Linked DNA regions of Homo sapiens. The protein of the gene in region 3 interacts with the protein of the main gene of each other region in a biochemical or structural test. Each region holds a gene or a part of one and is shown on either strand. Other genes may lie near its edges. The genes, in order: SH2D1B, INPP5D and SLAMF1.

The links.
Region 1: the proteins of SLAMF1 (region 3) and SH2D1B interact in a test that uses a peptide from one of them, tested with the Homo sapiens proteins (2 studies listed by BioGRID).
Region 2: the proteins of SLAMF1 (region 3) and INPP5D form a complex in vitro, tested with the Homo sapiens proteins (one study listed by BioGRID).

What each region holds. Positions count from the first base shown.
Region 1 is NC_000001.11:162,407,398-162,418,295, forward strand, and holds the start of SH2D1B (SH2 domain-containing protein 1B), read right to left. Parts: upstream 4,740-10,898; 5' UTR 4,620-4,739; coding exon 4,486-4,619; intron 1-4,485. UniProt on the Homo sapiens protein: Cytoplasmic adapter regulating receptors of the signaling lymphocytic activation molecule (SLAM) family such as CD84, SLAMF1, LY9 and CD244. In SLAM signaling seems to cooperate with SH2D1A/SAP.
Region 2 is NC_000002.12:233,053,649-233,064,838, forward strand, and holds the start of INPP5D (phosphatidylinositol 3,4,5-trisphosphate 5-phosphatase 1), read left to right. Parts: upstream 1-6,693; 5' UTR 6,694-6,830; coding exon 6,831-6,964; intron 6,965-11,190. UniProt on the Homo sapiens protein: Phosphatidylinositol (PtdIns) phosphatase that specifically hydrolyzes the 5-phosphate of phosphatidylinositol-3,4,5-trisphosphate (PtdIns(3,4,5)P3) to produce PtdIns(3,4)P2, thereby negatively regulating the PI3K (phosphoinositide 3-kinase) pathways.
Region 3 is NC_000001.11:160,606,777-160,617,224, reverse strand, and holds the end of SLAMF1 (signaling lymphocytic activation molecule isoform b precursor), read left to right. Parts: intron 1-4,644; coding exon 4,645-4,737; exon of another isoform or gene 4,738-4,738; intron 4,739-6,426; coding exon 6,427-6,477; 3' UTR 6,478-9,119; downstream 9,120-10,448.

The DNA.
Region 1 (10,898 bases), 1.8 Mb from region 3:
TTTCAGTGAAGCTGGGGACATTGGTAAGAGAGGGAATGTAATAACATATTAGCAATTTGGCCCTAGGCAAGCTATTAAATAAGAAGCTACAGTTTATTTTCTCACAAAATAGTGATCATGTCGCCTACCGCAAAGGGATTGCAAATGACAAATAAGATAATGCATGTACCATGCTTAGCAAAATGTTTGGCTCATAGATAATACCTACATGGTAACTTTTTCTGTGTCAGTGAAGACAAGCAGGCTAACACTTGTATCATAATAGTAATTCTTGCTTTGCTTGCAAAGGGTTGTATCTTGAAGCATGAATTGGTTGATGTGACCTCTTCAGAGAAACCTTTCCTGTACCCAATGGAAAGCAGCAGCTGTGTCTCTCCCTGTCATATGACTCTGTTTCATTTTCATCATATTTTCTCCTCTTACTGAAATTAACTTCATGAGGGCAGAAACATTGCCAGTAGTATTTATCACTGTATTACCAATGCTTAGGACCACGCATGGAACATAATAAGTGCTCAGTATATGCTTGTTGAATGAATGAAGGTTCCACTTATTCTCCTAAAGTCTCAGCTCCAATATCTGGTTCTCCCCTTTTTGCTGTCAGCTCTACAGTGCCCTAATGATAGTCCAATCATCATAATTATCACATGCATCACTGTGTCTGTTTACTTCTTTATTTTCCCCACTAGGCTCTGAGTTGTGTTGAAGGCATCAACCGAGTGTCTAGCACACTGTCTGACATATGAGAGAATTCAAATATTTGTTGAACAACTAGAATTTAATAGTCCATACTTATCTGTATGATAATACATTTTTACAAGGCCCTATGAGGAGATAGCTTCAGGGGTCACTTGACCTAAGCCTTAAGCCTGAGGGTGAATGAAATGTTGTTTGCCTTTCAGTGACATGTGTAGGGAGGTGGGTGAGACCTGATCATGTGCAGGGGCTTAACAAATATTTATTTTTGCCTCTCCACTTGGTTTATTTTCATTTTTTAGCTTCTCTTTTTTTCTCTTCTTTTTTTTTTTTTTTTTGAGATCAAGTCTCGCTCTGTAACCCGGCTGGAGTGCAGTGGTGCGATCTTGGCTCACTGCAACCTCCGCCTCCTGGGTTCAAGCAATTCTCCTGCCTCAGCCTCCTGAGTAGCTGGGACTACAGGCGCATGCCACCACACCCAGCTAATTAGTTTTGTATTTTTAGTAGAGACAGAGTTTCACCATGTTGGCCAGGATGGTCTCAATCTCTTGACCTAGTGATCTGCCCGCCTCGGCCTCCCAGAGTGCTGGGAATACAGGTGTGAGCCACCACGCCTGGCCCATTTTTTAGCATCTCTTAGTGACCTTTGCTTTAGATGAATATGCAAGATGGGCTGATGCACCACAGAACAGTTGAGAATAAATATCAATTTTCAAAGAGAATCCCAATATAGGCTGGGTGCAGTGGCTCATGCCTGTAATCCCAGCACTTTGGGAGGCTGAGGTGGGTGGATCACTGGAGCCCAGGAGCTCGAAATCAGCCTGGGCAACATAGCGAGACCCCATGTCTACAAAAAATTTAAACATTAACCAGGCATGGTAGTGCGCACCTGTAGTCCCAGATACTCAGGGGGCCTGAGACAGGAGAATCTCTTGAACCCAGAAGGTTGAGGTTGCAGTGAGCCATGATCGCACCACTGCACTCCAGCCTAGGAGCTGGAGTGAGACCCTGTCTAAAAAAAAAAAAAAGAAAGAAAGGAAGGAAGAGAATCCCATATTGACCATATACCCTGAGATCCTGGCCAAGGTCTGTCCTTGCACCTTCTTGTTTTTTCCCTTCCCACTGCTTGCCCCAGCACAACTAGCTCTTCACCGTCTCCCGTCCAGAGACACAACAGTTTCTGTTGCCATCATTTCCCAGCTTCATTGTGTTCTCCACGTCAAATTGAAGTTCCTAAATTCACCAGTCTTTTCACTTCCCTGCTCAGAAACCATCCATGTTTCCCTGTTATCTATAGAACCATTCTTTTAAAACTCCATGATCTTATCCCACCCTCCTTTTCCAAAAGCTGGTTTCCAAACTACATTTTAGGAACCTTGTATGTAAATCCTTTAAAATATCCCACTTCTAGACTCCTGTTCCTACCTCCTCCCCTTCCTAAAATGCCCTCCATCCCATTTACATGTAAGCAGATCTTTTCCACTCTTTGTTTATTTTATTTGAGATGGAGAGTCTTTCTCTGTCTCTCAGGCTGGAGTATAATGGCGCGATCTCGGCTCACTGCAACCTCTGCCTCCTGGGTTCAAGCGATTCTCATGCCTCAGCCTCCCAAGTAGCTGGGATACAACTGCACCCACCATGCCTGGCTAATTTTTGTATTTTTAGTAGATGGGGGTTTCATTATGTTGGCCAGGCTGGTCTTGAACTCCTGACCTCAGTGATCAGCCCACCTCAGCCTCCCAAATTGCTAGGATTACAGGCATGAGCCACCGCGCCTGGCCAATATATATTTTTCTTTAAATGGTACTGTTGGATGTAGATATGAGAGAAATAGCCTGTATCTCCAGTACCATTTAAAGAAAGAAATATGTCCCTGTGTATTCTATTAGTAATGACAATCACTTTTGTCTATAATCAGACTTCTGAGCCTATTCCAAGGCCCATTTGTGTACTTCCTTGTAAAATCCAGTTTTAGCAAAGAACCCTACTAAGTCAGTTTGGCAAGGACCCCTCACCCTAGCTATCTGATCACTGTTGGATTCTGATCAGATTCCTCATCCTCCACCATCCCCCAGGCAACATCTGATCACCCGGGCCTGTCTTCAGCTACAATTCTGTTAGGCTGGTTTAGCCAGAATCCACTTTACCCCTGATGTTTCCTCCGAGTAATTTTCTGTCTACCGACAGCCACACTGCTCCTTGGCCATAAATTCCCACTTGTCCATGCTGGATTCAGAGTTGAGTCCAGTCTCTTTTCTGTGCCGCAAGAGCTCATTGCAGTGGTCCCTGTACCTTTGTGATGATCCTGAATAAAGTCTTCCCAACCATAATTTAACAAGTGACATTGAGTAATTTTTTTCTTTAACAAGAGACATTTGGATTTTAATTTCTGTTACAGGTATAATAAAAGGTTCAGTGGTCCCTACTTTACAAAGAGGAACATACATAAAGATAGGAGGTTTCTAGTGATTTCTGTTCAGGATTGCTTTCTAAACTGGGCATAAACAAGTTCCTTCAGCTAGGTCTCTTTGATACTGTGGCCTGGAATTTGTTTTTCTTTTTCTTTTTTTTTTTTTTTTTGAGATGGAGTTTTGCTCTTGTTGCCCAGGCTGGAGTGCAATGGCACAATCTCAGCTCACTGCAACCTCCACCACCCGGGTTCAAGTGATTCTCCTGCCTCAGCCTCCCAAATAGCTGGGATTACAAGCATACGCCACCACACCTGGCTAATTTTGTATTTTTAGTAGAGACGGGGTTTCTTCGTGTTGGTCAGGCTGGTCTCGAACTCCCGACCTCAGGTGATTCACCTGCCTCCGCTTCCCAAAGTGCTGGGATTACAGGAGTGAGCCACTGTGCCCAGCCACTCTTTTTTCTTTTTTTTGGACAGAGTCTCACTCTATTGCCCAGGCTGGAGTGCAGTGGTGCAATCTCAGCTCACTGCAGCCTCTGCCTCCTGGGTTCAAGTGATTCTCCTGTCTCAGCCTCTCAAGTAGCCAGTATTACAGGCACACGCCACCACACCAGGTTAATTTTTGTATTTTTGGTAGAGATGGGGTTTTGCCGTGTTGGCCAGGCTGGTCTCAAACTCCTGACCTCAAGTGATTCACCTGCCTCAGCCTCCCAAAGTGTTGGGATTACAGGCATGAGCCACCATGCCCAGCCTGGAATTTCATGTTTAACTTAGACTCTGGAAATTCCAAATGAGTTTTAACACAAACAAATTATTTGAGAAATTCAGGTCTCTGTTTCTTTACCTATGAAATGGTGACTGCTTATGCTTGCCTTGATAGACTACTAGGATGAAAGGAAATGACGAATATTGAAGTCCTTCACAAATCTAACAAAATGTGAAATATGATTGTATTTATAGTTTACGTATTGCAAGCAGATGCTGCAGAATAAGTGTTTCAGATTGAAATTTCTTGAAGAACCCCTAGCCTTTTCCATACCAAATAAACAGATCTCTGGAGGACAGGACCTCTGACATTTGTACCTTCTTTCCATCCCTCTGTACCCCTGTACTTCCTGCAGCCCTTCCCTTCACCACCACCATGTCCCTCCTGCTGCTGCAGAGTCTGCTTGCAGGGCCTTTACACCAGGGAGAGCAGGCAGATGGAGGAGCATGGACAGATACATTCCTCTCCTGGCAGTGTCCATTACTTCTCATTCTACTCATTGAGACTCCAAAGTCAGAGTGAAATACTGAGGGATATGAATTCCTGTACTGTGTGGCAGCCATTGCCACATTCAACATACGATGTCAGATGTGTGCAAGATGAGGCTACTCACGAGACACAGAGGCACAGGACTCCTGGTATCGACTCGCTGTCTCTTAAAAGAAAGTTGCCATCCACCCCTTCCTTGAGCAGCAAGGTCTCACAGTCTTGCTTGGTCAGACGTCCATGGTAGTAAGGCAGATCCATGGAGAACGCTCTTGTATCCCAGGAAGCCCTGTTGGCCTGAAATTCACCCCCAAGTCAAGGGACAGCTCTGAGGAGAGATGTGTAAGCAGCTGTACCTCCTGTGGAGCTACCTCTTCCTCTAGCGGTCTGTGGGACTCAGCCAGCTTCACAAGATTCAGGAAATGAGGAGGGCGGGGTGATAAAATGACCAACACTTTTCACCCTCTAAATGGCCCACATGTGACTCACAGAAGTAGGTAAAGCACATTTAAACACACAATGGAATCAGTGATGCTCATGGCTAGGGAGGCAATGCTGAAGTCAAGCTTCCTGGAACTGTGTTGCAGCCTTGTATATTACCATGGACTATCATCAACTTCTTTGGCTACTGGTATCCTTTCCAGGAAGCACACCGCTGCTTTTGCTGTAATGGTACCCATTTTCTGCTGAAGTTGCCTAGGATTGGGCTATGCTTAGCTTAGACTGGGTGCTCAAAAACCATTTGGATGCTGAGAGAATTGATATGCTCAGATACAATGGGAAAATTGAAAGGGTGGGATTTCCGTGGATCAAATGACACTAAAAATGGAAGACATTAATGGCAATAAAAAACAGTGGGACACTGTGGATGAGGACAGCCCATTCCATGGCTAAGGCTCCCAGCCACTGGTGAAAAAAGGCCATTTGAACACCCTCAAGCATTGTTCCTTTTGGAGAAAGGGCTGGTGTAGGTGGGAGGGATATCTGGGTATACTCATATATCTACAGAAAATCACTATATATATCTCAAAAATGTTATCTATGAAAATAGAACTATGTGCTAACGATTCATCTTTACTTCTCTTAACTTCTTCTTTTTTTTGTTTTCTTCATCTCCGTAGTACCTGGAGATCTTAACTTCTTCTTAACCTAGATGTTTATTTCACCTTGCTACTTTGCTTACCAGCTGTTTACTCACAGTTGGGTGTATCTTCTATGGAACTTCCTTGTAACAGATCTTTGTTCTTCCTTGGAATTCCCACTCTGCATTTGGCATAGTGCAGTTTCACTGATCAGGGAACTCGTTATCAGACAGATATGCTCTCAAATAGCAACTTTTCTTCTGTGGTTTTGGACAATTCATTATTCAATTCTCTGGAAACTATGGCAGTTGAAGACAGAGTTGTTAATAATGAAAGAAGAAATTTGGTATTTCTTGTGAATAAATTCACAATCGTGGTGTAAAGATGCTTTTTGACATAAGAGAGGAAATAACTGAAAGCATGCTCAGGCTCTTGGTCATCACAGGGGCTTCCTTGCCCTTTTTGCTGTTTCAAAATCCAACCCTCACAATAAAAGAAATGCAAATTACCTGCATGCTGAGATAACAACTCTCACCTATCATATGGGTGAAAATCAAAAGTTTGAAAGCTTATTGGGTTGGTCATGGTGAAAGAAAATAGAATATCTTGTATATCATTAGTTGGAATAAAAAATAGTTACAACTATAGTAAAAGATGGTTTGGCAATATCTTGCAAATTTATGTATGCCTTCACCATCTGATAGAACAATCTCAGTTCTAGAAATCTGTCACAAAACTACACAGGCAGAATTAGAAAATGACTTGTGAATAAGGTAGTATTTTTTAATAGAAAAAGATTACAAACAACTCAAAGACTTGTGAATAGAGGGACAGGTGAATAAACTGTGATTCATGTATACAATGGAATATTACTATAGAATAATAAAATGGGATTGAGGAAGATCTCTATATGCTGATATGCAATAATCTTCAGGATGTATTTTTAGGTGAAAGCAGCAAGATGCACAATAGTATATAGAGTATGGGGGATATAAATAAATATATACATTTATAATATTTGCTCATATTTAAAAAACAAACGAAACACCCACTGGAAGAACAAAACTAAAACTAATTAAAACTAAAAACTTCTGCCTCTAAGAGGAGAGCGGAAACATGCATAGAGGTGAGACTTCTCTCAGTAAAACTTGCTGTAGAGTTGTTGGTTTTTTGTTTTGTTTTGTTTTGAGACAGAATCTCACTCTGTTACCCAGTCTGGAGTGCAGTGGTGTGATCTCGGCTTACTGCAACCTCTGCCTCCCTGGTTCAAGCAATTCTCCCACATCAGCCTCCCAAGTAGCTGGGACTACAGGCACGTGCCACCATGACTAGCTAATTTTTGTATTTTTAGTAGAGACAGGGTTTCACCATGTGGCCCAGGCTGGTCTCAAACTCCTCACTTCAAGTGATCTGCCTGCCTCGGCCTCCCAAAGTGCTGGGATTACAGATGTGACCCACTGCGCCCAGCCTGCTGTGGAGTTTTGAATGTAGAATCATGTAATTGTTTTTTTGTTTTGTTTTGTTTTGTTTTGAGACAGAGTCTCACTCTGTCGCTCAGGCTGGAGTGCAGTGGTGCGATCTCGGCTCACTGCAAGCTCTGCCTCCTGGGTTCATGCCATTCTCTTGCCTCAGCCTCCCGAATAGCTGGGACTACAGGCCCCTGCCACCACGCCCAGCTAATTTTTTGTATTTTTAGTAGAGACGGGGTTTCACCATGTTAGTCAGGATGGTCCCAATCTCCTGACCTCGTGATCCACCCACCTCGGCCTCCCAAAGTGCTGGGATTACAGGCGTGAGCCACAGCGCCCGGCCATAATTGTTTTACACATTGAAAATAAACAAGTAAAAGGGTATTCCTAAAAGGAGGAATAAAAACTAAAATAATGTATCTAACTGAACATTACTTTGGTAATATAATCATAAAGAAAATTATTTCAACTGACTTTAGAATGTAGAATTTGAGTGAACAGTTTTAATTAAATATCTTGTACATTAAATAAACTAGCAAATAAATTTAGTGATAATTTGGTGTAATTTAAATATATTTAACTCATATTATAAGATAAACAAAAATCATACTGATATTAACATTTTAAGAACTAAGTAAGGTAAACAACTGTACCAGTTTGCTTATGTCTGAGGGGTTTCCCAGTATCTACGACTTTCAGTGTTAAAGACAGATGAGTCCTGGGAAAATTCTAGAATCAAGATTTTTTTTCAGTATAAGAAAAGAGATACACATATAAAAGCAAAGAAGTTAAATAAAATTTTTGATGCTAAATTTGAATTGGAAATATCAGCATGGATTTACAACTTGCTTTTCAACAAAAGGCCTAAAACAGGGGCCAGCAAACTTTTTCTTAGGCATTGCAGGCAATAGTCTCTGTTGCAACCATTCATCTCTGCCATTGTAGTGTAAAAGCAGCACTATGGGCTGTAGTTTGCCAATCCCTAGCTAAAACAATGAAAACTTGGTAGCAATGAGCACACCTAGGGATAAGGCTATGGTCTCTAAATACCACTTCTCCTATAAAAGAAGCAAGAACTTTTTAGAGAAATGGCTGAATTCATGCCAGGGACATATAAGTGTGTCAGTGAAGACTGAGTCATGTCAAAGGACATAAGACCCAATATGGAAAAATTTAAGTATCAAAGGAATAATGATTGTGGTTGATCAAAATACGTTGAATTTATATTATCCAGTAAAAGATCAACCTTGCCCAAATATAGATGTAGCCCTTTGTCCTAGCTCCTTGGAGAAAAGCTTTAAGCTCTTGGAATCCAGTGTATGGGACATTCAGTAGAACAAATAATGTGGTGTCTTCATAGGTTGTAAAAACTGAGTCAGATAGTTGGGTGAGAACTGCTCTAGGTTAAAAAGATGGTTATGCAGCATGAAACCAATGCTAGATGACATCTTGTTTGGATCTTGGCTTGAAAAAACCAAATACCAAAAATTTAGTGCTGGGGGAAATTTAAGTATTGATTTGATATTAGATAGTGCGTGTAGCAATGGCATTATGCTTTTGTGAATATAACTTTTAGAGATACGTATTGAAGTGTTATGTCTGATACTGGGTGATTGTGTGTGTGGTTCATTATATTAATGTCTCTTTTTGCATGTGTTGTAAAGTTTTAATAGTAAAAATATCTTTCCATTCCCATATTATTCTGATCCCATGTCACCTTTAAGAATAGCTCCACAGTACACAGGAATATCTTCAATTTCTTGCGTGGGTCCCCTTTCTCTCATCCACAGAAACAAAAACCTAGCACTATGTTTGTAGAACATGACCCTATTCTTCTGGCCATGGGTGATTTGATCAAGGATAGGCCTCCGACCTAAGATAAGTTAATCACAAACCCTTATCCAGGAGTTTAGAGAAAATGGGGAAATGAAGGAAATGAGAGAGAAAAAGAGAGAGAGATGAAAGGAAGGAAGGAAGGAAGGAAGGAAGGAAGGAAGGAAGGAAGGAAGAAAGAGAAAGAAAGAAAGAAGAGAAAGAGAAAGAAAGAAAAAGAAAAGAAAGAGAGAAAGGGAAGGAAAGAAAGAGAGAAAGAAAGAAGAAAGAGAGAGAAAGAAAGAAAAAGAAAGAAAGAAAGAAAGAAAGAGAAAGAAAGAAAGAGGGTAGGGGGCTGGGATGGGTAGGAAATGGGAATGGAAATTAATTCTCTAGGAATGGCTGTGTAACAGGTACATTTTTACACTGTATACTGGTGGCCATATCCCAGCAAGCTGTCAGGAGAAGAGAACTGGTCTGCAAAATGAGGAATGAAGTGGACACATGAAAAAAAGCAGAGTCAAAAGATAGTCTCACTTGGATTTTCCATGGGTTTTCATTCCAGGATTCAGTGATTTCTGAGGTCTGGCTACATGCTTGCCCTTGAGTTTTTTTGTCATTTTAATAGATTTCCCTTTTGTCATAAGCTAGTTGGCATTTGTTTTTGTTATTTTCTACTAAAGATGTCAAATAAATCCAGCCTTACAGATAAAATTCTGTTCTCAAGACCAAGGAAGCATGAGGCCAAATGTGAATCACAGTGTTGTTCTGAGTGAAAAGTCACGTAGAAACTGGACAGTGTGGTGTCAACCCCAGAAAGCCCAAGATCACAAGATCATCACTGACCACAGCAGCATGGCAAATGCTTGTGTTGTGCTTGTTAAAAGATGCCTGATGGAGGGCAACAGTGTAGGACCTCCCACTTCATTCCTACTGTCTTATCGTAGGAGATAGCACTTTGTCTATCTCCTTAAAGAGCTAACTCATTGCATCACCATCATTCATTGAACATACTTTATAGTGGGACCCCAATATTCTTGGAATCTCCATGACTCTAAGGGCAGAACCGCCTATGTGAGAGGCAGTGTGGTGTGGGGGCTTCAGCAAGAGGCCTTGCCACCTGTTCATTCTTGCACTGCTACAAAGAAACACCTGAGACTGGGTAATTCATAAAGAAGTTGAATTGGCTCACAGTCCACTGGTTATGCAGGAAGCATGGAAGCATCTGCTTTTGGGGACGGCTCAGAGAGCTTTTACTCATGGTGGAAGGCAAAGAGGGAGCAGGACTGAGAAGGGGGAGGTGTCACACACTTTTATACAACCAGATCTCACAATAACTCACTCACTATCACAAGAACAGCACCGAAGGGATGGTGCTAACCCATTCATAAGAACTCTGCCCTCATGATCCAATCACCTCCCACCAGGCCCCACCTCCAACAATGGGGATTACAATTCAATATGAGATTTGGTGGGGACATAGATCCAAACCATATCACCACCAGACTGCCTGGATTTGAATTCCAATTTCGCTACTCAGTGATGAATGCAAACTGCCTAGCTTTTTGTGCCTTTGTTTTTCAGAAAATGGAGACGATCATTATAATGACCATATAGAGTTGCTGAGAGGATTATATACATAATGCAGCTGGCACGTAGTTAGGGCTTGGTTTTCTATTATTGTTCATATCTGAAAGATTCCACACAAGATGGCCCCTGTTTTGTCTGGATGGTGATATGTCTGCATGGGAGGCCTTGACCTTTGGCAATCATTCTGGAGCCACAAGAGTGTCAGCCCGAGGGCCAGCCGGTCTGCCGAGAAAGGAAAGGCAGAGAGAGAGAAAGAATCTACGTCCTTGAAAATGGCACTGGGCGGCTTTAACAACTGACCTAGAAGACCATTCCTCTTCTTGACTTCCAATTGGATGGGAGAATAAATTTCCTCACTCTTCAAACTATTTGAATACGGGCATTTTTTTTTTTTTTTGCAGTGAAAAGATCCTAACAAGTACCCTGGCATATGCAATTGAATTTTTTATTAGTTCAAATGTTATCTTCATTGATATTTTGAATATAATTACTCATCTACTAATATTGTGTAGATGTTTTATAACATCAAACATTGTGTAGATGAGCACACAATGAGTTTTATAACATCAAACATCCACTTAAATAGC
Region 2 (11,190 bases), on a different chromosome or scaffold from region 3:
ACCATACCTGGCTAATTTTTGGATTTTTAGTAGGGTTTTGCTAGGTTGGCCAGGCTGTTCTTGAACTCCTGACTTCTGGAGATCTGTTCACCTTGGCCTCCCAAAGTCCTGGGATTACAGGTGTGAGACACTGCACCCGGCCTTGATTTGTTTTTTCACTAAACGTTGTATTACGAATATTTCCCTCTGTCCTTAAGAATCTTGACAAGAGACATATGTTGGCTTTTTGGACATGGTTTCCTCTTACCCAATTCTTCCCAAAGTCAATCCTAATTCTCCTTGTTTTCTTTCAAGCTCATTTGATTTTCCGGCATCTTCAGTGAAACAGGAGATGCTCGCTGCCAGGCCTTCGGTATTCACAGATGTCCTTTAGCACAATTATGGACTCCATGGGCCCTTGGACTCCTTGGGGATCGCCCCTGTGCCTGTCAGCGATGTTCCCGGCTCTGGTCCCAGGGGGAGGCCAGAGTGCAGCGCCACCTGGTGGCCGGGAGTCACAAGGCGCAGACCCGGACCCGTTCAGGTTCTTTGTAGTCGCAGGTAAAGAGTTCTCTTCTAGAATTGGGTTAAACCGGTGGCGAAGGTCACTGATGCCAGCTGCCCGCTGGAGCCCCCAGGAGCCCACCGAAGCTCTGCCCTTCAGGAGCTGGTCAGGGGGCCGCCTGGGAGACCCGCCTCATCGTGAGGACCTACCTGGTGCCAGACACATTACATAATTTCACAGACATTCTTCAACAGGGTGTCACTATCCCTTTACAGAGATGCAAACCAATCCAGAGATGCTACATAGTCATGGTAAAGCTGAGATTTGGATCCCAGCCTTGTTCCTGTGTGTCTAATTCAGAGTCTGATTTGCAGCACTAAAATGGAGCTTATCAGAGGAGCAGAACAGGGAAGGGGTGGAGGGTGCCATGATTTGAGATGTTGCCTTCCCATTGTTGGGGATGCACCAAGCCCCAGGAAGCCGTGGGGCCACATAGATGGATGGTCTCTGGCAAAATCTGTCAGGAATTCAGAGGACTGTGGCCACTAGCTCTGCAAATCTGAATGAAATTTGTGCCTGCAGGGGCCTGGGTGGATCTGGAAACGTCAAGATGCCGGTAGCAGAAATGGAACTGGAAAAGGAAAGGCAGGCTGGTGGAGCCTGGTATCTTGACAGAGCTCCAAAAACAACTGTGGAGAGAGAGGGATGGACAGAGAGAGAGAGAGAAGAGAGAGAGAGAGAGAGAGAGAGAGAGAGAGAGAGAGAGAGAGAGAGAGAAGGCTGGGTGGGGAGAGAGAGAGCTGGGAGGGAAGAAATTCTTTTCTGGCAGACAATAAGGGATCATAATCTGCTAGTTTGGGAGTGCTCCAGCTCTGCCAGACGTCTCCAGTGGGACGGTCTCCCTTCATCCTAGTCAGGGGCTGGGACTTGACTTCCTCTTCCACCATCTCAGTAAGCGACCTTGGCCTTTGATTTGAGAGGGGCCGATGTGGGCAGGGTAGATTCTCAGGACACAGGAGAGCATCCATCCTTCTTAACAAACTGTGAATAAGGTGCTGGCTCCTGCTTTTGACTGGTTTTCCCGGCTGGTCTTCCTCAGTGGCAGGAAGCAGGAGCCTGGGGGCTGACCCACCTGCCCTGGGCTCCTTGGGAGGGGAACAGTGGTGCTTGATCCCAGGAGGCTCCCTGTGAGTGGCTGCTCCCTTCTCCAGCAAAGGATGTCTTATTATCAGGTCTGAAGATGAGGGAAGTTCACTATTGATTACGCCAGCCAGTGAGCAACTTTCTAACTTCACGGTCAAGTATTTGCCCTTCTATTAATCAGGGTTCTTCAGAGAAGCAGATAGATAAGTAGATAGATTAGATAGATAGGGAGATAGATGGCTAGATAGATAGGGAGATAGATGGCTAGATAGATAGATAGATGGCTAAATAGATAGATGGATGGCTACATGGATGGATAGATAGATGGCTAGATAGATGGATGGATAGCTACATAGATGGATGGATAGATAGATAGATAGATAGATGGCTAAATAGATAGATGGCTAGATAGATAGACAGACAGATGGCTAGATACATAGACAGATGGCTAGATAGATATATGGATAAATAGATGACTAGATAGATAGATGACTAAATAGATAGGCAGATCGATAGATTTATAGATCAATAGATAGATAGGTAATAGTTAGACAGATGGCTAGACAGATGGATGGCCAGATAGATAGATAGATGGCTAGATAGATAGTGACTAGATAGATGGATAGGTAGATGGCTAGATAGATAGATGGATGGATGGTTAGCTAGATAGCTAGATAAATGGCTGGATAGATAGATGGATGGCTAGATACATAGATGACTAGATAGATAGTGGCTAGATGGATAGATAGATGGATGGCTAGATAGATGGCTAGATAGATAAATAGATGGATAGATAGATAGATGGCTAGATAGGTGGATAGATAGGTGGATGGCTAGAGAGATACACAGATGTATGGATAGATAGATAGATAGATAGATAGATAGATAGATAGATAGATAGATAGATATGGAATTGGCTCATAGGATGGTCAAGGCTGGCAAGTGCAAAGTCTGTAGAGTGGGCTGGCAGGCTGGAGACCCCGGGAAGAGTTGATGCTGCGGCTCGAGTCCATAGGCAATCTACTGGCAAATTTACTCTTTGGAGGAAGTCAGTCTTTTTCTATTAAGACCTTCAGCTTATTGGATGAGGCCTACACACAGGAATTGCTTTACTCAAAGTCTACTGATTTAAATGTTCATGTCATCTAAAAAATACTTTCAGAGAGACATCCAGAATAATGTTGACCAAATATCTGGGTCCTGAGGCCCAGCCAAGTTGACATAAAATTAACCATCACTGCTCCCTTTGCTTTTAGCACTCAGTGAGTGAACACTTTCAGCCCCTGCACCCCAAGCCATGAGTGATATCTATCTATCCACCCAGGCTGGGGGGAGTGGGAGCCCTGGGGCATAGTAAAGGGCTTCGATGAACACAGGAGGGGAAGGGAAGTACAGAGACAAATGCTTAGATATATTGTATATCTGTTAACATTGTATAGTAAATATATATTATATATATATAATGTGTGTGTATATATATACACACTATATATATGATGTAATGTGTGTGTGTATGTGTGTATATATATATATATATATACACACACACACACACATATATATATACAGTATATATTGACCTCTGCCTCCCCTCTCCTGGCTCAGTCCCTTCTCAGACCCTGAAATTCTTTCTGTTTCTTGTCCACGGTGGAAGGACCCCTGGACAAGAAGCTTGGTGTCTCCATTGTCCCTCTCTCCCAGCCTGCCCTGACCCTGTCCTGAGACTCAAACCTTCCTGTGACCCGCCCTCACTTAAGGTTGCCAAAGCAGAATTGCTCCAATGCCTTGGCCCTGCCATGTCAGCCCTCCTCTTCAACACTGAGGCCTGTCTGTTCTTCCCGGAGCTTCTAGAGTTGGCTGAGTGCCCATGACCAGGTGCCTGCCAGACCACCCTGATGCTTCTCACTGCCCAGCTTTCCCAGAAATTGTTCAAGTCCCCTGATGGGGCCTGGGGCTTGCCAGGGCTGGCAGTGCCTTTGGGCAGGTGCCCCAGTCTGGACCCAGGATCACATGAGTGAGTCTGACCCCACTTCTTCCCCTCAGCTGCTTTCCAAGCCTCTGCCCCATGGGTGAGGTTGACCAGATGCTCCAAGGAATGCATAGACTCACACTATGCAATCGCTCTGGGGCCCTATGGCTGGGTGTGACTCCTGGGCACAGCCTGGGGAGCAGGTTTCTCCTTTGAGTGGCCCCGAGCATTGAGGACAGCAAGGATAGTGGCAGGTGGTCTAGGCCCTCATCACCCCTGCCAGCAGCAGCTGGCAGTCCCTTATCCCTTCTGGAGGCTCCTGTCCACTATCAGGCAGCTGCCTCCTCCAACGTCTTTCGAGGACATTGCTCCACAGCACCGATACACCCACGGGCTCTTCCCATCAGCATCATCTCCCACCTCCCATCCATGTGGTGATGCTGAGCTCTCCACATTGATCCTGCCAAGCCAGATGCAGGCAGACATCCCTGGAGAGTGAGACTGCTCTTGTATGTGGAGGGCCAGGGTGCAATCATCATCAAATGGGATCTCAAGGTAGGAATGCAGTGATTATGGCCTAACACATTCAAGAGAATATGGCTGGAAGATGTGTGGTTCTACCTTTATGCTATAAAATTTGGAACAGTAATTTTTTTTTTTTTTTACTGTGTCGCTCTATCACCCAGGCTGGAGTGCAGTGGCACGATCTCGACTCACTGCAATCTTCGCCTCCTGGGTTCAAGTGATTATCCTGCTCAGCCTCCAAAGTAGCTGTAGCTGCGATTATAGGCACGTACCACACCCACCTGATTTTTTTTTTTTTTTTTTTTAGTAGAGACAGGGTTTCACCATGTTGGCCAGGCTGGTCTCAAACTCCTGACCTCAGGTGATCCACTCCCCTCAGCCTCCCAAAGTGCTGGGATTACAGGTGTTAGCCACTGTGCCTGGCCACTCTCTAGCCATTATTTGAAGTCTTCATTGATAAATCACTATCCCTCACATGAGTTTGTGAATTTTGTAATACGTTAAAATTATTTATATTGACTGGAGACCTACAAAAAAAAAAAATCCACCCACCAAAAGGGCAGCTCTGATCTAGATACTGGGATTTCCTGAATGTGGAGGGCAGAAGGGTGGGGGACAAGCCAGCTGACCATGCTGGATAGATCAGGCAATTGGGTGGAAAAGGAAGCAAAGTTGGGATGGGCCTTAAAAATGAGGGAAGAGTGCCCGTGTGGCGTGTGTGCCAGGGGATCTCACTCTGTGGAATGGCAAGGACCGTGGGAATAGAGGTGTGAGAGGTGGGGGGCTGGGGGTTTGGGGGAAGCTCTCTAAGTAGGGCAGTCTTGGCATGGTAGGGGTCTCTAGAGATGAGTGGGTGGAGGTGTAAAGGGACCAGTATTGCAAATGGATCCTCCTGGTGGCGTGGTCCAGGACTTCATGGATGTTGGTGGAGGCCAGCAGGGAAGTGAGAAGGGTGTGAAGGTACACAATGGGAGCATAGGAGATGACCCCATAAGGAGGGGGTGGACAGGTGCTGAGTGGAGGCGTGGGTGGGGAATGAGAGGCCTCCACACTGGGCTGCTGCAGAGGTGGCGTGCTGCGGAAGGGCCGGAGCATGGAGGCCAGTTCCCATCACCACTCTATCCCCACGCCTGGCTCCCAGCCTGGCCAGAGGTCCTTGACTGGGAGTGCTTTGTCTGCCCTACAGACTCGCCTGCCATGTGTGTTGCTCAGCGGGGAGGTGCTGGGGGCCCTGTTCTGGGACAACCATCAGTGTGACACATGTTGAGCCCCTGGGCACATGTGAGCTCTTTTACGAGCTACGTCCTTCAAGTTAGACAAGAAGAAACCAAGGCCGAGAGAGAGAAGAAACTTGACCAGGTTCCCACAGCTTGAATGTGGTGGCGCTGCCTGGCTGGTGCCCCTTCCTGGAGGGAGTCTGTTGTCATGTCCTGGAGGCCAAGGCCTGGATGTGGGATGGTGGGGGCACTCTTTGTGCAGCGGGTCAACACGTGCCCCTTCGGCCTTGGTGGGCCGGACCCAAGGACGGAAGGTGCCCAGGTCTGGGGGCTGAGGGATGGGTGTCCACCGCAGAGCCCTCAGAAATGACTGGTCCTGGATGGCGGTCCCTGGAGAGGCAGCTCCTCTTTGAGTGGTGGGCATATGTGGCCATGCCCAGTCTTGGAGGCGGTGCAGTCCGACCGGCCACCCCGACTGCTGAGACGCAGGACTCAGCACCCAGTGTTGTCCTTGGCCAGGCGGCCAGCCTGCCCTGTGGGGCTTTGGGGTTCTCCTCTCCGAGCTTGTTTCCCCAGCATCCTGGAGAAGCCCAGGGAAAAACCCAGCCTATGTTCCCGCTGTAAACGGCCCACATCCCCTCCAAGCTCCCTTTGTGTGTCTCCAAGCTGGACTGCAGGGATCAGAGCTGTGCTGCCCGTGCAGCACCCACCCGCCCCTGGGAATGAGGGTAATGGGGTCACAGAGCCATCACTTGGACCTTGGCGCCCTCGGCTGGTGGCAGCCAAGGTCTCCCAGCACCCAGGCCGCTGGGAGTCTCTAAAGGGGAGGGGTGGGGCTCGACTGTCCCCTCCCCCTCAAGTTTGCTCTGTCCTGGGCAGGCCGTAGTCCCAGTTGAGAAGCTGTGCCCCCTTGGGTGTTTTGGAGGTTCAGGGTGGGTGCTGAAAAGCCCTGAGGGAGAGCAGAAGGCTCGGGGGCCTGTCTAGGGCATGGCATCCCACGTGGGTGTCAGCACGGCCGCAGAAGAACCACTTCTCTGGCCCACCCATGCCTGCTAGGCCATGCTTCTTCAGAAGTGGCCACAACTCTCCTGACGTCTCCAGAGCCGGTCATTCCACCCAGGGGGACTTCAGCTGCCACTGGACACTTCAATTGTACGCTGCGACCAGTTGCCAGGAAGGAGAGGGCTGGCAAGAGAGCCGCGGCAGCCGTGGCAGGGTGTAGGGGACGGTGGACGGCCAGGGCCCCCCCCTCTCTCTCTTTCTCTCTCTCTCTCTTGCTTGGTTTCTGTAATGAGGAAGTTCTCCGCAGCTCAGTTTCCTTTCCCTCACTGAGCGCCTGAAACAGGAAGTCAGTCAGTTAAGCTGGTGGCAGCAGCCGAGGCCACCAAGAGGCAACGGGCGGCAGGTTGCAGTGGAGGGGCCTCCGCTCCCCTCGGTGGTGTGTGGGTCCTGGGGGTGCCTGCCGGCCCGGCCGAGGAGGCCCACGCCCACCATGGTCCCCTGCTGGAACCATGGCAACATCACCCGCTCCAAGGCGGAGGAGCTGCTTTCCAGGACAGGCAAGGACGGGAGCTTCCTCGTGCGTGCCAGCGAGTCCATCTCCCGGGCATACGCGCTCTGCGTGCTGTGAGTACAACCTGCTCCCTCCCCGGGCACAGATATGACAGAGGGGCTTAGAGGGGGCCCAGCTTTGAGATGGGTTGTTCTTATGTCACAGGACAGAGTGATCTGACATGCACACTTCCCCGCCACCCTGTCATGGACCTTGTCCTTGGAGTTCAGAGAGCTGGTCTCATGGCAGGTTTTGCAGCCTTGGAGCTGTCAGAACCACTCTGAGGCCTGATGTTACACCCCAGCTTCCCATGAGCTGTATGGACCTTGTGGCTTCCTTGGAGTCTGGGGACCGAGAGAAGGGAGTTTGGGCTTTTGGAGCCAGGAGGAAGCTCAGGGCTCTGTGGAGGTGGGTGTGTTAGAGATCAGCTCAAAGATGCCCAGCTCAGAAACCCTGAGAAGAGCAAAGGTGGCAAGGGGGACCCTTCCTGGAGCACCCAGGCTTCGGGCCCCTGGAGGAAGCTGTTGTTTGGCGAGCCAAGAATATGGGGTGAGTTTAATCAAGAAAGGACTTTCCATTCAGTCAGAAGCTGCTTTCAGGGGCCTGAGAGCAGAGGAAGTCACCATTACCACCAGCGAGCAGCCTCTTCTCTCTCCTGAGCACTTGGCTGTGACCGCTGCCCACCCCCCACCCCCTCAATTTGGGTCTCTGTCACCATCAACTCCTCCCACTGCCCGGTTGGGGATGTTACTGAATGTACCAGCTGTGCTAACAATGGAGGAACCAGCCACTTGCTGAAGGTTCCTTTCTAAAACCCCCTTCCTGTCCAGCGTCTGAAGGAGGCCCTTGCCCTGCAGCTCTCGGTCTAATCATAGGGGGGCCTTGCCCTGCAGCTCTTGGTCTAATCATTTTGCCGGGGCCTCAGGCAGTGCCGGAGTGTAGTCAGGGAAATGTGTGTCCACCTGAACATCTCAAGTAGCATCCCTGGGCTGGCAGAAATGTTCCCCCGAGCAGCCAGGGCCTTGTGCTTCTCCAGGCAGGAGGGGAATTGGGTGATGAACCCAGACCTGTTTTGAATACTGACTCACAGCTGGGACCTGTCGTGCTAAGCATTTGTTAGCCCATTTCATCCTCACCACAACCTAAAGTGAAGGTCCTGTTAAAAGCCCCACTTTGCAGATGAGAAATCTGAGGCCCTGGCAGGTTAAGTGAGTGACAACAGTCAAAGCCACGGCCATCTGCCCCCAGAGGCTGCAGCTGAGACCAGCAGCCTGTGGCCCAACCTCTCCTGCTCCCAGTCCAGCGGGGCAGGCATGTAGCCTTGCAGGGCTGGAGAAAGAAGCAAGGGGAGCCACAGTGTTTACAGGGTCAGCTGGGGCACTGGAAACCAAGCCAGGCTCGCAGCTGGTCGCTGGCCTGTGCTGACAGTCTGCAGCCCCACCTCCAAAGACTGGTTTCCTGTGTCCCCTCTCTCATGCCTCAGGGGAAGGAACGCAGGCCCAGGCTGCCTGGACTTCCCCAGTGGGGACCTGCTGCTGCCGGGGCCTTAGAAGGAGCAGGAAGATTCTCTTAGGCCTCTCACAAGCCCAGTCTGACTCCACCTGGCCCATGTGGGTTACTTGGATTTCTCTCCTGGCCCAGTGGGATCTTGTCCTGGCTGTTTGGTGTTGGCTGAGCCGAGGGCTTCCAGGGCCCCATCTCATTAACCTTCAACACAGCCCTTTGACCAGGGCTTGCTTTGTGGTTGCTCAGGTTACAGACATGGGGCGTGGGTCTCTCTGACTCCGAGCCGTGAGCATCTTAACGTCTAGGATTAGCCTGAGCCAGAGTCAGAGCTGGAGAGGCCTTGGAGAAGCTCTGGTGCAACAGCCCTGGCTTTTCAGGAGGTAGACAGAGGGCAGAGAGCCTGAGGCCTTTGTCCACCATGCTGGCTGGGGTCAAAACTGCTGGGATCCAGGCCAGTTCTCGTATTCCTTCCTCTACCTCTTCTCTCTGAACCCTTGTCTGCACTGAGTTCTCTCAGAGTCATGATGGGTGTGCAGTGTCTGCTCCTTAGAGAGGGACCTGTGGTGCCTACAGATGTCCACTATCCTCTCAGCCGAAGCCTCGTCAGCCTCCTATCCTGAGGCTGCTGGGCTGCAAACACCAGGAGTCCCACCCCTTGGCCAGACAAACCCTGGGCTCAGTGTTTCCCTTTCTCCTCTGCTCAGGGTGGGAAGCTTCCCTTCCTGCAGGGTCAGGCTCCACTGTAGGCCGTGGGTTGCTATGGACCTGCAGACTTTCCATACATCTGCAGGCTTCATATGGCTGCCACCCTGGATTTTGCCAATTACGGAGATTTTAAAACTAAAAACTAATTAAATGAATGATAACAAACTGTCATCTTCCAACACCTCATTTCTTGAAAGAAAGCAGCCTTTGACACCAAAAGAGGCAGGAAGGGCATTAAAAAAAAAAAAGCCAGTCATTTAAAGCAAAGAGATTGAACTTCTTGAAAAACAAACCCTACCACCCTTAGTTTTCTGTGTTCCCTGCAGAGTCGCCGTGGCCTGACGGAGACGGCAGAGGCAGACAGTCCCAGGCTGAGGGGTGTGCAGGGCAGCCGGGTTTTCTGCGGCTGCAGAAGTAGCAGGCTTTGCCCCCCTAGCCCTGGAAGCCTGGAGCCACCCTGCTCTAGAAGTGACTGCAGAAGGAAGCCACACACTCACCCTCCTGCCCTAGCAAAGTCCATGGGAAAAGTATACCTGCCCCATGGCCCCTCAGATCACCCAGGTGCCCTGACCTCATCCTGCCTGGGCCCCAGCAGCACTCCCTCCCAGGCCCCCTCTGGTGGGCAAGGGGACAACGGCCGGAGTCTCCACCTGATGGTTTGGGCAAGTGTGCCTGGAGTCTCAGGAACTGAGAGCAGCCTCACCAGGGAGGGGCCTTTGTGCTCAGGAAAGAGAACAGGATTTGACTATGTAAATGGACTTGAGCGGGGGTTGGACATCAAAAGACAGGGCTACAGTTCAGTGCCACCCATGTGACTTAGGAGTGCACATTCTGCGCACACCCAGCAAACCCTGCATTTCCTCGAGAGAGGTCAGCCCCGTCACCTACCACTGGGCAGGAAAGCTTTGATCTCACCTCAGCAGCTTGGAAAGCCCTGCTTGACAGGGAGCCTGGGCTCCATCTCGGGGCACAGACAGTTGCAGTGGGAAGACTCCAGCAGGTGGCTGCCTGGTTTGGGTCCAACTCTGCCGTCTTTCAGCCAGGGGCTCTTCTAAGTAGAGCCTATGTTGTCCCCACCTGGTCCCCACTCAAATCCCCCGGCAGAGTTGGCCCTGCTCCGGGGGGAGTCTGTGGGTGCCTCCAGGGGACGTTGGGTACATCGTGGGTGGGAGACATTAAGAGCTGTCAGGCTCATGCCCTCTCCTGCCACGCAGGGGCCAGCACACCTGGCAGGGCCTTATGCTGCAAAGAAGAGATGCCTTGGGAATGGGGTCAGTCAATGCAAGGGTCCATGGGTTGGCCGAGCCGGCATCCCCTTGTGCAATCTGCACAGGCAAAGCTGATCAAAGGCCCAATGTCAGTATATAGGCTGCCCTCTCTGCAGGAGCAGCTGGGGCCCGGGATCAGGCCTAGAGTGGCCGGCTCAGCTGTCTGCCATCCAGCCTGGAGTTGCGCAGGAGGGCGGCGTTCCCAGCCAACCACTCCAGAGAGAGGGGGCTTCCCTCATGGGGGAGGCGAAGGCACGTGGCTGCCTTTGGCTCAGAACCCAGTGCCTGGTCTGGCCACAGCTGACAGTGTGGTTTTGGTTTCCCTCCACATGTGGCCTTCCACAGGCCACCCAGGCACCATGGCAGGGTCTTGCTTACCCCTTCCCAGGGGCAGTGTAGACAGTGCACCGGACAGACCTGGCTTCACCAGCAGAAGGTTGTTACCAACCTGCTCCGCCTAATAACAGCAGGCAACTTCCAAAGAGCTCTGTGCCAGGCACCATTCTAGGCTTATATTGACTCATTTGATGTCCACGAAGACCTTCAAAGGAGGTCTTATTATCTCCACTTTACAGATGGGGAAACCGAGGTGCAGAGCGGTTTATGGAACAGGCCTAGTTTACAGGACTAACAAATAAAAGGGCCAGGATTGCATGCATGATCTTCCTGGAAGCGAGAAACAGAGACCATAAGGTGGCCTGTGTGGGGCGGGGCAGAGCCTGGAGAGGGAACTTCTCGTGATGGAGCCGCAGAGAAGGGACTTGGGAGGGCGAAACTCCTAATCTCAGAGAGTCCAACAGAGTTGGAAAGCTGTGGTGTGA
Region 3 (10,448 bases):
CATTTACTTTTCTATCAGCTACATATGAGAGTCTCAATTGCTATGCCTTTTTTTTTTAAATTTTTTTTTGAGACAGAGTTTCACTCTGTTGCCTAGGCTGGGGTGCAGTGGCGTGATCTTGTCTTACTGCAACCTCCGCCTCCTGGGTTCAAGCCATTCTCCTGTCTCGGCCTCCCAAGCAGCTGGGATTACAGGTACGCACCACCACACCTGGCTCATTGTTGTATTTTTAGTAGAGACAGTATTTCACCATGTTGGCCAGGGTGGTCTCGAACTCCTGATCTCAGGAGATCTGCCCGCCTCAGCATCCCAAAGTGCTGGGATTACAGGCATGAGCCACCACTCCTGGCCTCAATTGCTATGCATTCTAATGAAAACTTGGTATTAACAGTCTAATTTTAGTCCTACTGTTGGATGTGTCTTATTATGCTTTTATTCCACATCTCTGTAATTATTAAGGAAGTTGAACAACTTTTCATATGTTTATTGGCCATATTAAAATTCTTTCTTAAAGTGCCCATTTAATCTCTTGCCCATTTCCCTTTGAGGTTTAGTCTTTCTTTTATGGACTAGTATATGCTTTTCATATATTTTGGATATGTGCCCTTTGGCAGATATGTTAGCAAATACCTTCACCCATCTGTAGCTTGCCTTTGGAATTTCTCAGAGATACCTACTGATAAAGAGAAGGTCTTAATTTTGTTGTAGACCAATTTAGTCTAGTCCTTTTTAAGCATTACTGGATTTTATTTGCTAATATTTTGTTAAGAGTTTGGTTTTCCACTTATGTTTCTGAGTGAAATTGGCCTGTAATTCTCTTGTATAATGCCTTTTTTTTTTTAAGAAGGCACTGCAGTGGCTGGTATATAGCATTCTTGTGAATATATCTAACTGGGATACAAGTTGAGGTAGAAATATTTCAAATGTCCTTAAAAAAATAAGTAACAGAGTTCTTCCTGGACTCTTCTTTAATCACAAGCCTCAGATTGATCCCAAAATGACACACAGCTACTCTACCTAATACCCACATCACGGTAAAGTTGGTCGCTCTCCTGTTAAAAATTCAGACTTTAAGAACTGGAAGGGACCTGGGTAGTCATGCCCAACCAGTGGGGTTTTGATATAAAGATTTATGCTAATTCACATAAGGAGTTGGGGTATATGTTAGTTTCCTAGGGATGCCTTAACAAATTACTGGAAACTTGGTGGCTTAAAACAACAGAAATTTATTCTCTAACAGTTCTGGAGGTCAGAAGTCCAAAATCAAGGAGGCACATCCTCAGGGCCACACTCCATCTGGAGGCTTTAGGAGAAAATCCTCTTTGCCTCTTCCAGCATCTGGTGGCTCCAGGCTCTCCGTGGCATTTGTTGGCTTGTAGTTGTGTATCTGCAATTTTTGCCTTCATCTTCACATGACCTCCCTCTCTGTGTCTTCTTCTTTTCCATCTCTTATAAGGACAGTCATCATCAGACTTCGGACTTATTCTAATCCAGGATGACCTTATTTTGAAATCCTTATCTTGACATCTGTGAAGACCTTTATTCAAATAAAGTCACATTTTGACATTCTGCCTGGACATATCTTTTGGGGCCACAGTTCAACCCACCACAGGGTGCATTTCCTTTTTGTTATTCTCTGCGATATTTGGGTAGGATGTCTTATTTCTCCCCTTAAATATTTGCTAGTAGAGCAAATTGCTAGTAAAGCTATCTGAGACTGGGGTTTCTTTGGTGGAAATTTTTTTAAGTTATATTTTTATTATTAAATTTTCTCCTCTACATATTAGTGAACAACTTTTTTCAGTCTTTTTAGTGGCTACCCTAGAAATTATAAAATACAACTTTGACTTACCAAAGTCTAAGGTTTACTTCCCTCCTGCATAATACTTCAAGTCCACAATAATTTCACCTCTTGATTTAAGTGACCGTTTTGTCATTATTTGAATTTCATATATATTTTAAACACACAAGACATAATTATTATTGTTTTATATATATAAATATATACTTAGACTTACCCACATTTTCACAATTTTCTTTGTTCATATTTGCGATGTCTTTATTATATCAATATAAAGACTGTAATAATGTAGACAATTATTTAAAAACTAACAATGCCTTTATTCTTATTTTTAATGGCTATAAAATAATCTTATAAAGAATATAATAACATGAAAATCACTAAACAAGTGTTTACTGTGTGCTAGGAACTCTTCTAGGACTTATCAGAGCTAGTATCTTGCAGAATTAATTCCAGCGGCCACCATTCACAAAAATTATGTGAAAATAATGCCTCTGGAGTTGCTTGTAAATGATGCTCCCTAAAGATGTACAAATCAGTGGTCCTAACAGAAGATAATAAGATACAAAAATATACTAACTTATTATATTTATGTTTAAAATAATTCCCTATGCCTGGATAAAAATCCTGAAGTGAACATTTAAGCACACACAGAGTCTTAATAGGACTATGGGTGACTTCTTTTACATATTTTTCTCCTTTCTAAAACTTCTGAATTAATGTTAAAAATGTAAGTTATTTGCCTCCTTCTGCCTCTAGGTCAGGTTATGCTAAAGTTCTCCCAAACAGGAAGACCAGCAGAGGTTGCATCTGTTGATAAAGGTCTCTCTTCTTTTTTTTTTTTTTTTGGTGATGCGGAGTCTCACTCTGTCGCCAGGCTAGAGTGCTGTGGCGCCATCTCAGCTCACTGCAACCTCCAGCTCCCTGGTTCAAGGGATTCTCCTGCCTCCGCCTCCTGAGTAGCTGGGATTACGGGCATGCACCATCATTCCTGGCTAATTTTTGTATTTTTAGTAGAGATGGGGTTTCACTATGTTGGCCAGGATGGTCTCGATCTCCTGACCTCGTGATCCACCCACCTCAGCCTCCCAAAGTGCTGGGATTACAGGCGTGAGCCACCACGCCCGGCCAAAGGTCTCTTAATAAACTGTTTTGATAGCCTCTTTATCTCATCACTGCAAGAAATTCTTTCTTAAACTCAAAATTTCTTCAAAATGTATTTAAGAATTGTATGGGATCTTGAAAGCCATCTATCTGAACCACCCAATTACTGCTTGAATTATCTGCTACAACATTACTTCCAAAGTGTTGCCTAGCTCCTTTTTACTGAAATATAGTTTGTGAACAAGCAGCATCAGCATCACCTGGGACTTTATTAGAAATGCAGAATCAGGCCCTGCTCCAGATCTTCCGAAATAGAATCAACCCTTTAACAAGATCCCCAAGTAATTCATATGCATAATAAAAGTCAGCAGCACTGGTCTAGACCATGCCCAAGCACTTATAACTATAGGAGCTCATTGCCTGCCAAGGCAATTCATCCCACATTTGAACATCTTTTACCATTAGAAAGATCTTCATTATATTGAATCAAAATATTTTCCCCAAATCCTAATCTTGGTTTAAACCTGAGATACTTTATAGGCAAATTGAATTCCTTTTCTATATGGCAATTCATCAAATATATGAAGAGAAAAATTATGTCCCATCCCTTTTTCCTCCAATAAACTTTCCTAATTCCTTAACCCTTCCATCACATGACAAAATTCCAAGTTTTCTCGCATTAAAACACATGTGGTGTGGCTTCAAGTCTGGCTCTATACCCAGGGAGAGTGGACAGCAGCATTATCCCATAACCAGTGTCCCCAAAATGTGTTGAATTAATGACTTCCCTATTGTAAGTGATGGCATCCGCATCTTACAAGGATGTGGTCTCAATTTATTTTGAGGTCTTTGTCCAGGAATTGTGGATTTTAATTCGTTCAAAGTAACATCAACAAATATCAGCTGAAGAGTTTATTTTTATGTGTCCAATACTGTTCTGTGGGGAGTACAAAAATATATGGCTTATTTCTCAAGGAATGTATAGACTGGAGAAACAACACATAAATATATCAGAATGTTTTAAATATAGCATAGAGTGCCATAAAGTGTAAATTAGACTTTAAATACCTGAGGAATTTAAGTAAGGGATAGGTCATTATAAGTTGAGTGACCAAAAAAGAATAGTGATAGAAAGGACATGCACCTTAAGTTAAAAGAGCTTAAGGCAGGGGACTCCCGGCTTTGACACTTCTTGCTTGTACACATTAGGAAAACATTTGGTCTTTCTGAGCTGTAGCTTCATCATCGGTGAAGTGTGAGTAACAACAGTATTTAACACAGAGTGGTTGTGAGGCAAATGAGAAGACATATGTGAGGAGGAGGAAGAGTAGGAATGGCAGTGTGGGATGCAAGAATTCTGCATGTAGCCGGTGATATGAGTGAGACGGACTAAATTCTGTTGCTATTCTGTCCCCTCCAGCTGCCCCTGTAAGAGCCACACCAATTTCAGTTTCTTGTGAGGAAGACATTTAAAACATTTGAGAAGCACTGACAATGGATGAGGCTGCCTTGGGAGGTTGTGCACCCCAAGACGCCACTTGGGGAGTCCAAGCAAAGCCTGGGGAATTGAGTTCCAGAGAATTTGGGGGAGAATTCCCACCTGAGAAGGAGGTTGGACCAAATGACTGGAAGGAACTTTCTGCCTCAAGTCTTCTTGAGTCTGTGCTTCTCTATCGGAGAGTTGGGTGAGAACTAGCTCTCTCTGTTCAGCTAATCTGCTTTCTTTGCTTCTCTTGTAGCCTCTTCAGAAGAAACTTGACTCCTTCCCAGCTCAGGACCCTTGCACCACCATATATGTTGCTGCCACAGAGCCTGTCCCAGAGTCTGTCCAGGTGAGGCATCTCTCTGCCTACTCTCCGTAGAGAGGGAATACATGAAGGAGGGGAAAATGAGGAAGTTTTTTTTTTTTAAGGTGGGAAGAGGGAGAGGATCAGGGAAAATAGCTATTGGGCACTAGGCTTCATACCTAGGTGACAAAATACTGTGTATAACAAATCCTCATGACACAAGTTTACCTATGTAACAAACCAGCACATGTACGCCTGAACTTAAAATAAAAGTAAAAAAAAAAAAATTAAAACAAAAACAAATTAAATGAAACAGATTGATGAGTCCTGGACTGGGGAAGGGAGGCCACAGCATGCAGGCAAAAAGGAGTCTCTGTGGCTTTGGTTTTCCAGTTTCCATGAAGCCCCCAATACCTGCTCACACGGGGCCACTGCTAACCCCCTGCTGGCCAGTGTTTCCCTGAGAGTTGTCCAAGGACCACATCAGAATCAGCCAGCGTACTTGTTAAAAATAAAGATTCCTAGGGACTTCCACCTAGGATTCTGTTAAATGAAAATGTCTATGGAGAGTAGCCATAGACCTACGTATTTAAAAAACCCACACCCCAGGTAATTCTGATACACACTCAAGTTTAAGAACAGCAGCTGGAGTCCAGGAGTTCTCAACTCCAGCTACAAAACAGAATCACCAGGGAAGCATTGTAAAAATGCTCATGCCTAGACTCTGTGCAGCCCCATTTAATCAGAATATTTAGGGGTGGAGATCTGCATAGGTGTTAAGCCTAGAAGAGAATATGGGGTGCAGCTCAAAATGATACTTGCATATTCTACCCTATTGCAAGATCAGCAGGGACTAAGTTTACTTCGGACAGGAATCTTTCCTTTACTGAATGAATAGAAATAAATTCTGGGCTGAAATCTTTGCTCCATTTGGGCTCTTTCAGAAGAGAGCCCAGGATGATAGAGGCACAAAGGTCACACAAATGCCTGCATCCACCTTATTTTTCAAAGCTCCTACCGCACACACACTCATCCAGAAATGCCTGGGCAGGTGCCCTATATTTCAAGATGAAACCAATCTTCAACTTGAGGTCCATTCTCACTTCACTGTCATATCTAAGAAGGAAGTAAAAATATAAACCTGACTTCAAAGCTTCAAAAAAATACATAGATTTTTAATGAAGTTTACTTAAGGACAAAAACAGTATGCTATAGTTAACATTTTATGGCAAAACCCTTAAATTCTATTTTCTTTGTTTCTTTGACATGAGAGATCTTTGCGCATAACCCTCTTCTCCCCTTCCTCTCTCCTGCCAATACCACTTTTCTCTTCTCCCTTTGAGTCCCACTAGACTTTTTAAAAACTCAATAATTTACAACTCTCTTGGCTTCCCAGATTGTGACCCATATGTAACAGCAAAACAAATGGTTTTCCTTACAAGGGGATGGAAGGGGAGAGGGCAAAGAGGGAGACAGGGCACTGAGTGCTGGTCCTCAGATCATGCTCCCCATAATAGCATGCTTATGCTTGGAAGGGAGCTGTGGCCCTTGTTGCAGGTGGAGAAGCAGTGTGGGAACCCAAGTGCTGTCCCAGCAAGGCCCTGTCTGTGACAGACCCTGCACAAGCCATGATCTCTAAGACCCTTTCCTTTTCCTCAGCAGTGCTGTTTTCATTTGCATTCTGTGAAGTGAGTATCCAGTCCCTCTACTCACAGACTTCTGCTTTGTCCCCAGGAAACAAATTCCATCACAGTCTATGCTAGTGTGACACTTCCAGAGAGCTGACACCAGAGACCAACAAAGGGACTTTCTGAAGGAAAATGGAAAAACCAAAATGAACACTGAACTTGGCCACAGGCCCCAAGTTTCCTCTGGCAGACATGCTGCACGTCTGTACCCTTCTCAGATCAACTCCCTGGTGATGTTTCTTCCACATACATCTGTGAAATGAACAAGGAAGTGAGGCTTCCCAAGAATTTAGCTTGCTGTGCAGTGGCTGCAGGCGCAGAACAGAGCGTTACTTGATAACAGCGTTCCATCTTTGTGTTGTAGCAGATGAAATGGACAGTAATGTGAGTTCAGACTTTGGGCATCTTGCTCTTGGCTGGAACTGGATAATAAAAATCAGACTGAAAGCCAGGACATCTGAGTACCTATCTCACACACTGGACCACCAGTCACAAAGTCTGGAAAAGTTTACATTTTGGCTATCTTTACTTTGTTCTGGGAGCTGATCATGATAACCTGCAGACCTGATCAAGCCTCTGTGCCTCAGTTTCTCTCTCAGGATAAAGAGTGAATAGAGGCTGAAGGGTGAATTTCTTATTATACATAAAACACTCTGATATTATTGTATAAAGGAAGCTAAGAATATTATTTTATTTGCAAAACCCAGAAGCTAAAAAGTCAATAAACAGAAAGAATGATTTTGAGATCTCTGAGTTTTGAACAGTGGACTGGAAACCATGTAAGAGCCTTAAAAGTACAGTTCTGTGCAAATGGCATTCAGTTTTAAAGAAAAACGTAGCAAATGTTTGATGGTGCTGTTACAAAGGAGCTTGGAATACTCAGAGGAACTTGTCCCATGGTGATTTTTCACTTCTCAAAATGATGTTTAAATCCCAGTTCTCTGTTGATTCCCTTGAACAACAAACCTGGAACCTCAGCTAAGACTCTCTGTGACCAGATTCTGAACCTCTTATATCCAGGGCTTCAAGGGGTATTGCAGGTCAAGGTCTTTCCTAGGCACTTTCTACTCCCTGCATACCTCTCCTCACACTAAATTTATCCTCTAGTAGAAAATTAAGTTATTTTGGTCTAACAGCTTCAAATCTTTGAATGCTCAATAACTTATTTTGCAAGCTGCAGGCAGAAAGAGACTTTTTAAGTAAAGTCCTTTGTTTTTTCCTATTCTCTGCTTTTAGACAGGCTGTCCTCAATTTAAGCCCTGCTTTTTCTTATTGTTTCTTATATAAACTTGGTAAGTACTGTAAGAAACAGCCACTATCATACCATTGCATAATAAGGAGCACCAACTTCCCAGCTCAAAACTCAGGTCCTTATTGCCTTGTATCTTACCTCCTCTATGAGGTCAATTCACATTGTAAGCCTGTTGCTTAGTGCATCTCGTTTCCTGGTACCAGCTTCTTTAATAGAGTTCTTAGTTGCAATCAACAGAAGCTGGCTTTGGCTTTTTTATGTAGAAAAGGAACCTATTGAAAAGATACTGATTGGTTCCAATAACTGCTAGAAGTTTCTGCAAAACCATGCTTTGAAAGTGAGCAGGAAAAGAAGAGACTAGGCTGTGGCTGGGAGCACAGCCAAAATTACAAAACCAGCCCAGGGATGATGATCCTGTTCATGCACAGCCACTGTCCCCAGCACTAGGCACAGACTCTACCACTGCCTCACTGTCTCTGCTGGACTTGGAAACTTGATATTACTGTTACTGCTGCACTGTCTGCCATGAAAATGAATTCTCCAGGGTCCCTTCTTCATCCTTTCATCTCTAGCTTATAATTCAAAGTCTGGGATTGAGTGGCCAATCCTAGGTCACATGTCCATGTCCTATCTCCAAGGGGGGCTGGGAATTGAATATCTGGCATTTTCCACTTTCACTTCTTATGAATTAAGGAATTCTACAAATAATAGAAGTGGGATTCAGGTGGTAGGCAGACAAAAAAGCCTCACAATTATCCACTACGCCACCCTTGTATAACCTTACCCTCATTCACTGTCTACTCTCAAAACTGTGGAGCTACTAATGAAGATTTGTAAACCCGGGCTTATGAGCACCCATTCCTTTACTACAACTCAGATTGCTCTAGAAGCTCAGTTCCCAGCACTTGGATTTTTCCAGTAGCTGAATTCTACCTGAAGGAAGGGCAGAAACAAAGGGTGAAGAAGAGGCTATCACTTCCAAGTATCCTGCACCCCTGGGCTCAAGACCTCACTGGGGAGGGAGTCTTTTGGGCCACCCACCAAACAGCACTGGCATTATGCCTCTCACCCTAGACCATGGTTACACGTGGTAAAACAACCCCTTCTGGTGATACATTCACAACTCTCTAGTTTCCCCCAAATGGCACTATGGGGAGCGGGAGCTTGCCTTTTCCTCAGACTTAAAACAATAAGTTTTCCCCGTGTTTCCCCTCTAATGCTGTTTTCTTTTGACCAAGCATGTCTGAATTCTAGAGAAGTCAGGAGGAACACACCCATTCTCGGTTTGAAGGGACTGATGTTCTGAAGTACAACTGGGCACAGTCCCAGGCTCTTCAGGACGCTTCCTCCATTCACACAGCGGGGATGTGATTGTTACAGCGGGTGGTGTGTGCTGGCTGAGAAGCCACTGTGAATTGATTCTTCTTCTGAAGTTTATGTTTCTACTTTTTGGAAATGAATAAATTACAGCCAGTCCATCAAGGAAATTGCAATTTTGTCTTGTGTTTCCTAAAGGATTTATAACACAGTAATATGGCATGATGTGTTTCCTGGCCTTATGTCTCCATGCCATAGTTATGAAATGCTGAAGGAGGCAGATTTGATCAGATAGGATGTGAGGTTGTCCCTTTCCTGGAGGTGGACAAGGGTTAGCTTGGCATCCCCTTCACCAAAGGTCAGGAACCACCCTCCACATGGAGAACTGTGTTGAAAGGATTGTTTAATTTTTGTCACTGCCAGAGTAATTCCCTTCCCTGAACTCTGCCAAATTCCCCTTGTGGACAAAATCTAGAGCAGGGTTTCTCAACTGCCACACTATTGACATTTGGGGCTGGATAATTTTTTTGTCATGGGGCTGTCCTGTGCACTGTAGGGTGTTTAACAGCATCCCTGGCCTCGGCCCACTGGGTGTATGGCACATGCCCTGTCCTTGATTGTGACAATCAAGTGTCTCCAAACACTACCAAATGTCCCCTGCTTGGCAAAATCTCCCCCAGTTGAGAACCACTGATCTAGAGATATGCTGGCCCCCTGGTGAGCTCTGAGAAAACTAAATACGCTTCTATATACCAAGAAGTAGATCTGTCAAAGGTGGCCACCTGGTCACTTAAGCATGGCCCAAACCTGCCAGTGACACCCAAGTTTACCTAAATATTAGAATTACCCGGGAAACTTTTTAAAAAATAATGATGACCAAATCTAACCTGAAACCAAAATGAGATCTGGGTTGAGATTTATAGAACTACTTATACCACAGAAAGGATTTCGTGATGAGTTTCACACACCAGCCACAAGAGGGTGATATAGCAACACAATCCACCCAACCTTAGCATCCCCACCACTTCCTTGTATCTAAAGGATGTGGACTTAGTCACAGACTGGATGAAACTGTGTCTGGTTTCTCAGCTCTTACAGGCTGAAAGGAGATAAGGAGGCTAATGTGGATTGATGAAAGGCTCTAAAAGGTTAAGTGTACTAAGTTTATTTCACAGAAGACTTCTAGTTCTACTCAATGCTTCACTCATTCAACAAAGTTATTAAGTTCCTACTAAGTGTTTGGCTTGTCATCCAGCAGGAGATACAAAGAACACAGGCAATTGAAGTATTATAACAGGTAGATCACTATGTGATCTACTGAGAACCATTGGAAAATAAAAGAAGATGCTATTAATAATTACCCTGGGGCAGGGGATGGCAGCTAGGAGGCAGGACTAACTTGCAACTCTCACTCAGATGTGTGGAGACTCACATCATGAACTTTTGTTCCAAGAACCGCTGCAGGAACATACCAGGAAAACTGAAAGAATTCACCAGCC